Linked DNA regions of Homo sapiens: region 2 is linked to region 1. The links come from fine-mapping of genetic effects on gene expression. A gene starts in region 1. The other region holds a variant in brackets. All regions are shown on one strand. Distances are from middle to middle. Region 1 holds the start of CPEB2 (cytoplasmic polyadenylation element binding protein 2). Region 2 overlaps C1QTNF7-AS1 (C1QTNF7 antisense RNA 1).

The links.
Region 2: its variant is fine-mapped to the expression of CPEB2 in whole blood (TOPMed, PIP above 0.99).

Annotation. Positions count from the first base shown.
Region 1 is chr4:14,999,918-15,005,289 of GRCh38, forward strand. It overlaps CPEB2 (cytoplasmic polyadenylation element binding protein 2), which reads left to right and starts at 2,564. Exons shown (of 12, transcript NM_001177382.2): 1 at 2,564-4,418. The coding sequence starts at 2,757. CPEB2-DT (CPEB2 divergent transcript) reads right to left here and starts at 2,128. Exons shown (of 8, transcript NR_038857.1): 1 at 2,021-2,128; 2 at 1,709-1,808; 3 at 1,244-1,312. It overlaps C1QTNF7-AS1 (C1QTNF7 antisense RNA 1), which reads right to left. Exons shown (of 6, transcript NR_125911.1): 6 at 5,025-5,240. RefSeq lists enhancers at 1,553-1,602, 4,444-5,010 and silencers at 1,843-2,702, 3,203-3,512, 3,563-3,712, 3,813-4,022, 4,403-5,002.
Region 2 is chr4:15,075,933-15,081,304 of GRCh38, forward strand. The region is part of intron 2 of C1QTNF7-AS1 (C1QTNF7 antisense RNA 1); the gene reads right to left. Among named protein-coding and RNA genes, the nearest start is that of CPEB2, 76 kb to the left of the region's middle. The variant T/C (reference allele first, on the strand shown) is at 2,166.

The DNA.
Region 1 (5,372 bases):
TTGAATGGACTCATAAGATCTTGGCATGGAAACTGCTAGAGGACCATAGTCCCTCCTCAGTATTTGCTGCTCCTTCTCCCTACCCCACTCCACTCTCCACCCTAGGAAACCTTTTCATTTGAATATTTTCAATAAGGGCAAGATCACCAGCTTACAAGATGTCAGAAAGTAACTTTCTGCTCTAAAAAAATGGGGCCCTCACAAAAGTAGTGAGTAGAGGCCCTGGCAGGATTTGGAATTTGGTGTATTTAATATGAAGTTTGACATTATTATGTAATAACAAACTTGATGGCTTTTCCCCGTTTCAGAGAGCTCTAAATCCTCTAAGACAAAACTAGTACCAGAGCACTAAGAAATCTTGTTTTTGTTCAAAACTCTAGCCCAGAAAGGCACCAGTTAGCTTTTAAAAGTATGTGCTCTCTCCTCTTTACTAACTGCGGTGTTAGTGGATAATTGAGCTAAGGTTTATACCTGTATTTTCCCCCTATTTCAAGATTTGTTGTTGGATCTGCAAATGATTCCAATCAAATACAACTGTACTTGGAAAAAAATCATCCGTTGTTAAGACTTTACATTCCTTAGTTGCAGAAGTAGTTTTTTTTCCTGCACAATACCTTTTAAAAAATGAATATTTAATATGTCAATATATACTCTGAAAATAACCATTTATATTTTAAATTCTGAGCTCAGGTTATTTTCTAGACATTGTAATTTAGAATAAAAATACTTCTCCAGTTCTACATTTTGCCTGACTGTTAAAAATGATTTTGAGATTAATAAGTTGAACCAATTTTCTATTCACCTGACCAAATTCTGAACCATTTGAGTTTTTTAAAAAGTACTTTTTCCTTATTGTAAAGGCAACATAAAACTTGGTTCATTGGACAGGATAGCAGAGATAAACATTATACATGAAGTATAGTTCCCTGGGGCAATGTTGCTCTCTTTCTACCATGTTTATTTCGATTTATATAAATTTGAGACACTGAACAGAAGTAGAATTCAAATAGAGAATGAGGACTTATAAAAATGTACACTCTGCCTACATCAGTAAGAGTATGCTAATTTATAAAATTAAATATTTAATCTTAGTTCACTTGTAAACCAAAATCAAGTAAAGTCTGAATCCACCTTCTATTGCTTTGGGGGTTTGAGTCTATATTCTAGGATTCATTTAATAGTTTCATTTCTCTAAGCATCAAGCAAAACAGTTAAAATTACAAAACAGAAACATAAAGTTCACCTCATCATGTAGTATGGATCACTCTGTTATTCTTTATCTAGACCTTCAAATACTTTATGTAAAATGTTTCTATACAAAAGGAAACACAGGATTAGTTCCTCCTCTAATGCTTCTAAAGAGCTCTACCATGGAAAGCTCTCTCCCTTCCATTTTGCAAGTCTCAACAAGTCTGCTGCTGAGTCAGAACCTCCTTTTTTCCCTGATGTAAGAACTATTTCTCCCTTGAAAATTCATAAAGCTTAGGAATAAATTAGAGTCTCCCTGGGGGGAAGGGGCGGGGACGCCGGAATGAATGTGGTGGGGAGGAGTCCCACGCTGCAGCCCTGATGGCACACGAAAGGCTTTTATGAAGCGGAGCTGGCCCGGGGTTACTATGGGAGCTCGCCGTGGAACCCGTTCCACGCATCCGAGTGTGTAAATAACCACGCGGAGCGTGTTTGTTCCAGGGACTTTGTTCCTTCTTACCCAAGTGAAAATGCCTGGAATATAGCCGAGGCTTCATGTTTACCCTACAGAAACACCCTCGGCGGCTCTACGACGTCGGTGACAGCACTCCTACCAGCGCCTAAAAACAGAAACAAGCTTAGAGGGCGCTACCTAGGGCTACAAGGAGGCCCTAGATCGGGGACTCGGGGTCTAGAGGTGCGCGGCGAGGCGCTCAGCGGACTTCAAGCCGGCAGAGCCCAGACGCTAGTTCACCACAGGACCCCCGGGCTGGGCCGGGCTCCCGCGTTGCGCTGGGGGCCCCTCGGGCGCCTATTTCTACGCGGGTCGCACAGTGCAGGCGCCGGTCGGGGTCCCGGGCCTCAGTTTCCCCCGCGGGCCAGCCCCGCTCTGGGAAGCCCGAGTGGTGCAGCAGGGCTTCTCCCCACCCAGGGCGGAACCGAGGTGACAGGAAGGAGGAGGCACCGCGAGGGGCGGAGACGCGTGCGACCCAGGCAGACTCTGCGCGGATCCCGCGCCAAGGAGGGGCCGTTGCCCAGGAACCGTCCCTCCCTCCCGCGCGTGCTTGCCCTCGTGCGCGCGCCCGCCCAATGCTCCCGACCACTGTTTGCCAGCCGACCCCCACCCCAACCGGCCTGTCCATTTCCCCGGGAGCGGAGAGACCCAACGGGACACGCCGCTCGCTCCCGCCCTCCCGGGAGCGCGAGCGCGCCCTCGGCTGCGTCTGCATAGTAATGAGGGGCGGGGAGGGGCGACGGGGACGCGGTGGCCTCGCGCCCGCGCGTGCCGGGACGCACCGCGGGGGGCGGCGCGATTGTGAGGTGGCGCTGACGCACGTTCCGGGGTTCTTAAGCGGCCAGGGCGGCTACGGCGACTGCGACGGCGGCGGCGGCGGCGATCGCCGCGAGGGGTGGTGGGGCCGAAGTCGGTGCCCCCTGGCTCAGTCACGGTGTCCCTCTCTCACTGACTCCCCCTCCTTCCACCACGGCCGCGCAACCCCAGCGCCGGCGGCTTCCTAGGTGGGGCAGGGGACGAGGAGCGTCTCCTCCCGCTGCCGGCGGCCTGATAAATGAGGGATTTCGGGTTTGGGGTGCTGCAGACCGCCCCGCTCCGAAGTAGCAGTCCTGGGCCCCTGTTCTGCGGCGAGGCGTATGGTCCTTACGCCGTGGGGTCCGTCAACCCGCTGCCCTCCGCCACGCCCTTCGGCCCACTGTCGCCACCACCGTTGCCTGTCACCGGCTTCTTAGAGGCCGCCTCCCCCTTCTCCGTCCCCCTCGGCGGCGGCGCGGGCAGCCCGGCCGCCGCCGCTTCCTCTTCCTCCCCGTTCCTGGCGCATCAGCAGACCATGCAGGATGAGCTGCTTCTGGGGCTGACACAGCAGCCGGCGCGGCCGCTTTCGGGGGCGGCGGCCACGGAGAAACTCCCCGACCACCACCCCGGCGGCGGCACGATCGCGGGTGTGACCCACCTCCTCCCCTCCCAGGACTTCAAACCGAGTCTGCACCACCCCTCCTCCTCCTCCGCCTCCTCCTGCTGCTGCTGCCGCACCTCCTCCCCGCAGGACTTCAGTAAGCGGCAGCAGCAGCAGCTGAGCAGCCAGAAGAGGAAAGAGTTCAGCCCTCCCCACCTTCCCCACCCTCCGGACTCGAAGCCGCCGCCGCCGCCTCCGCCGCTCCACTGCCCCGGTCGGTTCAGCCCGCCGCCGCCGCCAGCCGGCCCGCTCCTCCAGCCGGCGCAGCTCGCTCAGCGCCAGCAGCAACAGCCGCCGCAGCAGTTCAGCCTCCTGCATCAGCAGCACCTCTCGCCGCAGGACTTCGCCCCGCGGCAGCGTCCGGCAGACCTGCCCCCGCTCCCGCAGCTCCCTCCCTCGCCGCCTGCAGCCCCGCGGCGCCGCCACGGAGGCGCGGGCAGCCCTCGCAAGACCCCAGCCGCGGGCGAGGGCAGCGCCGCCGAGTCCCCCAATGCGGGCTTGGCCTCCTCGACGCCGGTGAACCCCGCGCCGGGCTCCATGGAGTCCCCCAACCACCCTCTGCTCAACAGTCCCAGTAACCTCCTGCCCGGAGGTGCGCTTGGCGCGGGCGCCTTCAGCAGCCTGCAGAGCCCGGACCTTCCACACCCGGGCGGCGGCGGCGGCGGCGGGGGCGGGGGGCCCCCAGGAGGCGGAGGGGGAGGCGGCTCCGCGTCGCCGCCGCCGCTGCCCGGCTTCGGCACCCCCTGGTCGGTGCAGACCGCGTCGCCGCCACCCCAGCCCCAGCAGCCGCCGCCGACCCAGCCGCAGCAGCAGCCGCCGCCACCCCAGCAGCCGCCCCAGCCGCAGCCGCAGCCGCCCGGCTCGTCTGCCACCACCCCGGGCGGCGGCAGCGGCGGCTCGCTCAGCGCCATGCCGCCGCCCAGCCCCGACTCAGAGAACGGCTTCTACCCCGGGCTGCCGTCGTCCATGAACCCGGCCTTCTTCCCTAGCTTCTCGCCCGTGTCGCCGCACGGCTGCACTGGGCTCAGCGTTCCGACGAGCGGCGGCGGCGGCGGCGGCTTCGGCGGCCCCTTCTCGGCTACCGCTGTGCCCCCTCCGCCGCCGCCCGCCATGAATATACCTCAACAGCAGCCCCCGCCGCCCGCGGCGCCGCAGCAGCCGCAGAGCCGGAGGTCGCCCGTCAGCCCGCAGCTCCAGCAGCAGCACCAGGCGGCGGCCGCCGCCTTCCTGCAGCAGAGGAACTCCTATAACCACCACCAGGTACGGCGGGCGGCGGCCTGGCCGCGCCGCGGGACCGGGAGACCATGGGCGGGGGACGGAGGCGGGGGCAGGGCAGCCGGGGACCCGACCTTAGCCCCGAGAGAAGCCGCGACGGGGGCCACTCGCCCAAGTGAGAGTGGAACTGAGGGCGGACAACCGTGACAGGACTCGGAACCCCAGCCCCCGGTGGGTTGGGAGGGCAGTGGCCACCGTGGGCTGTGGGGGCGTGGGAGACGAGTTCGCGCTGGGAGCCGCGGCTGGCCGGGCGCCCCCTCGAACGTCCCGGCGCAGCAGTGGGGACTGGGGCAGGGGCCGAATAGCGCCGGGGCCGCGGGCGGCCGGGCGCGGCGTCTCAACCCGGCCCTCCTAGCTGGCGCACCCCGGGATCCGCCCTGTGCCCTGGGCCTGGAGGGCCGCCGCCCCGGACCCCCGACGCGGGGAGGCGCGGCGAGGACCGGGGGCTGGCCGGGGGCCTCGGAAGAGCGGCCGTGGGAAGTGAACTTGGGCAGGGGAAAAATGATTGCTGGAGAAGGTGCGTGCGGAGGAGCCCAAGACTCTGTCTCGCTGTCCAATGAGGGAAGGCGGAAAGGCTTTTTTTTTTCTTTGGAGTTTGTTTATTCTTATTTGGCCGGCGGTGATCTCGCCTTGAAGCCTCAGCCCCTCGGGCGGTCAGTCGAGCCGCTCCCAAAGCTCCGCCCGATCAACCTGCTGGCAGCGCCGCACCCTGGGCCGCCGGCCCAGGAGGGAGTCGGGAGGGAGCGGCCGACCGCCCTCCTCGCAGGACCTGGTTCCCGCGGGGCCGCCTCCTTGGCTGTCACAGGACTGGGAAAGAGAAACTGTTAGTGACCGCTCGGGTTCAAACCGAGATATCCCACGAATGTCTTAGTTTCTGTGCTTTTCAATGTTGGGGTCATGTTTTGTGGGTTTTAAGACAAAACTGAACTTGGATCTGGG
Region 2 (5,372 bases), 76 kb after region 1:
GCAAGAGAAAGCTTGTTATATCTAAGGAAATATACATAACAGTATTGGCAGATTTCTTAGCAGAAATCTTACAGCCTAGAAGGCAGTGAGATGATATATTAAAAGTGCTGAGAATGAAACTGTCATCCAAGAATACTATAACCAGCAAAACCTGTTCTTCAGAAATGAAGGCATGATAAAGACTTTCCCAGACAAACAAAATCTGAAGGAATTCTTCACCAATAGATGTGCCTTACAGAAAATGTTAAAGGGAATTCTTCAAGTTGAAGAGGAAGAATGCTTAACATCTATTAAAAAGCATATGAAACTATATAACTTCATGGTAAAGGTAAATATATATACAGATTGAAAATACCATGACATGTAATATGATAGGTAAATAAGTTTTAGTTTGTTTAGAGGTTAAAAAGGCAAAAACAGTAAAAATAACTATAACTATAAAATATGTTAATGAATAAACAATTTTAAAAGATATAAATTGTAATATCAAGAACAAAGTGTGGGGAGAAGAAAAGTAACAGTGTAGAGTTTCTGTATGGAGTTGATACTAGCCTGAAATAGACTATTATAACCATAAGATGTTTTCTGTAAGCCCCATGTAACCACAAAGAAAACACCTATAAAATATGCACAAAAGAAAGTAAAAAGTAAATTTAAAAAAGTAAGTAAAAAAGAATCAAAGCATATCAATACAAAAAAAAAATCAACAAAGGAAAACAGCAAGAAAGGAAAAGAACACAAGAACCAAAAGACAGAAAACTAGAAAATGGCAATAGTAAGTTCTTCCCTATGAACAATCACTTTAAAGGTAAATGAATTAAATTCTCCAATTATAAATGGCTGCATGGATAAAAATAAAATTAATAAAATATAGGAACTTATTATATGCTGTTTACAGGAGACTGACTTTAGATTTAAGAACATATACAAACTGAAAGTGAAGAGATGGAAAAACATTCCATGCAAATTGTAACCAAAAGAGAGTAGCATGCCTATGCTTATGCTAGACAAAATAGACTTTGAGACAAAGCTGTCACAAAAGGTCATTATATAATGATAAAATAATTATTAAGGAAAATGTAACAATTTTAAATATGTATTCATCCAACATTAGAAGTATCTAAATATATGAAGCAAACATTGACAGAACTAAGGGAAAAACAGCAATAGTAGGATACTTTAATACCTAACATTTAACAATGAATAGAAGTTCCATATGGAAAATCAATGAAGAAACAGAGGACATAAACAATACTGTAGACCAAATGAATCCAAGAGACATATATGGAATATTCCACCAAACAGCAGAAGAATACACATTTTTTTCAAGTGCTGAATTAATTACATGTTAGGTCACACAGCAAATCTTAACAAATTTAAGAAGACTGATCTCATACTAAGTATTTTTTTCTGACCACAATGAAATGAAACTAGAAATCAATAACTAAAGAAAACTGGAAAATTCACAAATATGTAAATTAAACAAGACACTCCTGAACAGCCAGTGAATCAAATAAAAAATCAGAAGGGAAATTTGAGAATATCTTGAGAAAACTGGAAATGGAAACACAACATACCAAGTCCTTTGGACTGTAACAAAATCAGGAAAAGGAAATTATGCAGCAATAAGCACCTACATTGAAATAAGAAAGAACTCAAATAAACAGCATAGCTTTGTACCTCAAGAAAGTAGAAAAAGAACAATCTAAGCCCAAAGTTAGAAAAAAGAAAGAAAGAAAGATTAAAGCAGAAATGAACACAATAGAAAACAGAAAACCAATTAAAAAAAATAAAACTAAGAGTAGGATTTTGAAAAAGATCAACAAAATTGACAAACCCATAGCTAGAATTGAAAAAAAAAAAAAGAGAGAGAGAGAAGACTTAAATTAAAAAAATCAGAAATGAAAGAGGAAACATTTTACCTGATGCCATGGAAATAGGATCAAAAGAGGCTACTATGAACACTTATACACGAACGAATTGTATAACCTAGAATAAACAGATAAATTACTAGAAACATACAACCTACTAAGATTGGATTATGAAGAAATTAAAAACCTGAACAGATCTATAATTAGTAAGGAAATTGAATAAGATGGCTTCACTGGTGAGTTACACCAAACACTTTTAAATAAATAGATGACTTAGGATTATGCAATTCTTTT[T/C]ATAATTTTTGACCCTTTTTTTGTAACTTTTAAGTTCAGGGATACAAACCTTGTACAAACAAGGTTTGTTACATAACGTAAACTTGCGTCATTGTGGTTTGTTGTAGAGATGATTTCATCACCCACATATTAAGCCTAGTACCCCATTTGTTATTTTTCCTGATCCTTTTCCTCCTCCCATCCTCCACCCTCCAAAGGGCACCAGTGTATGTTGTTCCCCTCTAAGTGTCTATTTTCTCCTCATTTAGATCCCACTTATGAGCACATGTGGTGGTATCCCAAGAGAAATCTAACCGATTTTGTAGTGTGACTATTTCAGATTCTGTTCTGATTTTTATCACTTAAATTCCTAGGAATGAGAAGACATGATAATAAAAAATATTATTCAATTATTAAAAAATTAATGCCAATCCTTCTTAAACTCTTCCAAAAACTTCAAGAGGAGGGGAAGCTTTTAAACTTATTTTATGAGGCCAGTATTACCCTAATACCAAAGTCAAAGACTCTTCAAACAAAATGTGGTATATATATACAATGGAATGTTATTCAGCCTCAAAAAAGAAAGAAATCCTGCCAAATGTGACAACATGATGAATCTTGAGGACACCGTGCTACATGAAATAAGTCAGTCACAAAAGAACAAATATTTATATGAATTTCCAAAAATAGTCATAGGGGCAAAGAGTAGAAGGGTGGTCTCCAGAGTTTGGGGAAAGTGGAAAATGGGGAGTTGCTGGGCAGTGAGTATAAAGTTTTAGTCATGCAAGGTGAATGAGTAAGTTCTAGAAATCTGTTGTGCAATATCATGACTGTATTGAACAATATTGCATTGTACACTTAAAAATTTGTCAAGAAGATAGATATGTTAAATGTTCTTACCACAATTTTTTAAATTACTGGAGAAATTATAGGGTTTTTTTTAAAGAAAACATCCTACTTGTTAAATTAAGTGTTTCTTTGGATGTTAGTTGAGTTTGGTGTCTTTCTTTCATATTGCTTTCTTCAAATATTTGATGTATTCATTTTCTGTTGCTGTGTAACAAACTACCACAAATTTAGTAACTTAAAACAAAACGCATTTACTAGCTCACAATTGTGTAGGTCAGAGGTCTGGGGGAACATGACAGGGTTCTCTGCTAAGGACGTCACGTGGCCAAAATAAAGATGACGGCTGGATTGGACTCTTGCCTGAAGACTGTGGGAAATAAGGTACTTCCAAGAGCATTCAAATTTCAGCAGAATACTGTTTCTTGCATTTGTGCTTTTGAGATGTCTGTTTCTTTGCTGTCTGGTGGCAAGGGGCCACTCTCATCTCCTAGGACTGACCACACTCCTGCTAACGTTGCTTCCTCCTTCAAAGCCAGCAAAAAATGTGTTGAATTTTTCTCAAGTTTGGAAACTTTCTGTTCTGCAACCAGCCAGCGAAAATTTTGCTTTTAAACGGCTCAGCTGATTGAGTCAGGCCCACTGGATAATCTCTGTATTATAGGATCAACTGACATGTAGCTTTAATTACAGCTGCAAAATTTCCTCATAGCAGTACCTAGATCAGTGCTCAATTGAAAAATAAGAAATGGGAATCTTGGGAGACCATCTTTAGAATTCAGTAATTACATGTGGTGTTCCTGGGCTGAATTGAGAATTATTATTGCTATCAGAAGAGTCAGGTTCAGATTATAGGCTTTCACCACTAGGAATTGTCGGACAGGGATGGAACCAGCAGCTAAACAGGTAGCCCTGCCATATATTTGACATAGAAACTTCTGTTTTTAAAAAGTTATGATTACTATATGCCATTTATTAAGCATTTCCTCATTCATGTGCAAGATCTTCATTATTTTTCTTCCTTTTTCTTTTCTTTAGTTTTTCTCTTTTTATTTCTTCCTTTCTATTTCTTTCTTTTTTCCCCTTGTTCAAATTATACTGATGATGACATGTAAATCATTAACCATTCTACAGGAAATAAACCATAGCCCTTACTTATTTAAAGTGACTTTATCAATTATTTCAGATGAGAAGGAAACTGAGTTCCAAGAAGGGAGAATGACTGGTTTGAAGTTCCAAGGCTGTTTGGTGGATGAGCCAAAATGGGAGCCCCAGAGTCTTTGTCCAGTGCTTGCCTTCCCCCCAGACCATGAGAAGCCACTCCACTGAACTTTTTGAAATGTCATCATGCTGCCTGAGAAACTAAAATTTTGGTGGCTCGCAATGATGTCGTTACTCAAAGTGGTGCAGGCATTTCTCCTACAGAGTGACTTTTCACGATCTGAATTAGACACAATGCAGTATATTAATTTGGAGACTTATTTTGCATTACGTAATCTGCTATTGATTAAAATGAACCATTGAGCAGTTTAGTCATGAAGAAAAATGCTGCTTCACATGCAGCACAGTTGTTTCGTTTGGGTGTCCCTGAACTTTCCAAGACCATAGCAAACTCTTTCCTCCTCAAGGACTTTGCATTAGCTGTTCCCTCTGCTTGGAATGCTCTTCCCCCAGGTCTTCTCTGTCTTCAGATCTCAGATTTCATGAGGCCTTTCCTGTCCATGCATTCTGAAGCGAGCCCTTCCTGTTAACTTCCCTCTCGGTGTCTTACCTAGTTCCTTTATCACATATCAAAATCTATAATTATTGTATTGATTTGGTTGCTTACATGTATCATGTCTGTCACTCCCACTAGATTGGAAGATGGGAAGATTCTTGAAGTCAGAATTCTTACCCTTCTTAGTCACTATGACAGCCCCAACATTTAGAACAATGCCTCATGCAGAGCAGAAATTTTTGATAGACAATTGCTAAGTAGATAAAAACAGATGGTAAGAATGTATAACAACAGCTAGTAGTGACAGAAAAAGGAAAGAGATTGTTTTTGAGAGAAAAGCTAGGTGGAATCAAATGCCATATTTGTTCAGTTATGTTTCATTTTTATAGCTATATGTTTTTAGTTAAAAAATACTCATTAATAAAATTCCTACAGGGGAAAAACAACTTTGTTATTGGAAGTCTGAAAAACTTCAGTACCTTATTTCTTCTTCCCATCGAAGTAATTACTCCTATAATGCACTTTTTTGGGGTTTTTTTATGTTTTCTTAGAGACAGTGTCTAACTCACTCTGTGTCACCCAGGCTAAAGTGCCGATCTCGGCTCACTGCAACCTCTGCCTCCCAGGCTCAAGTGATTCTCCTGCCTCAGCCTCCCAAGTAGCTG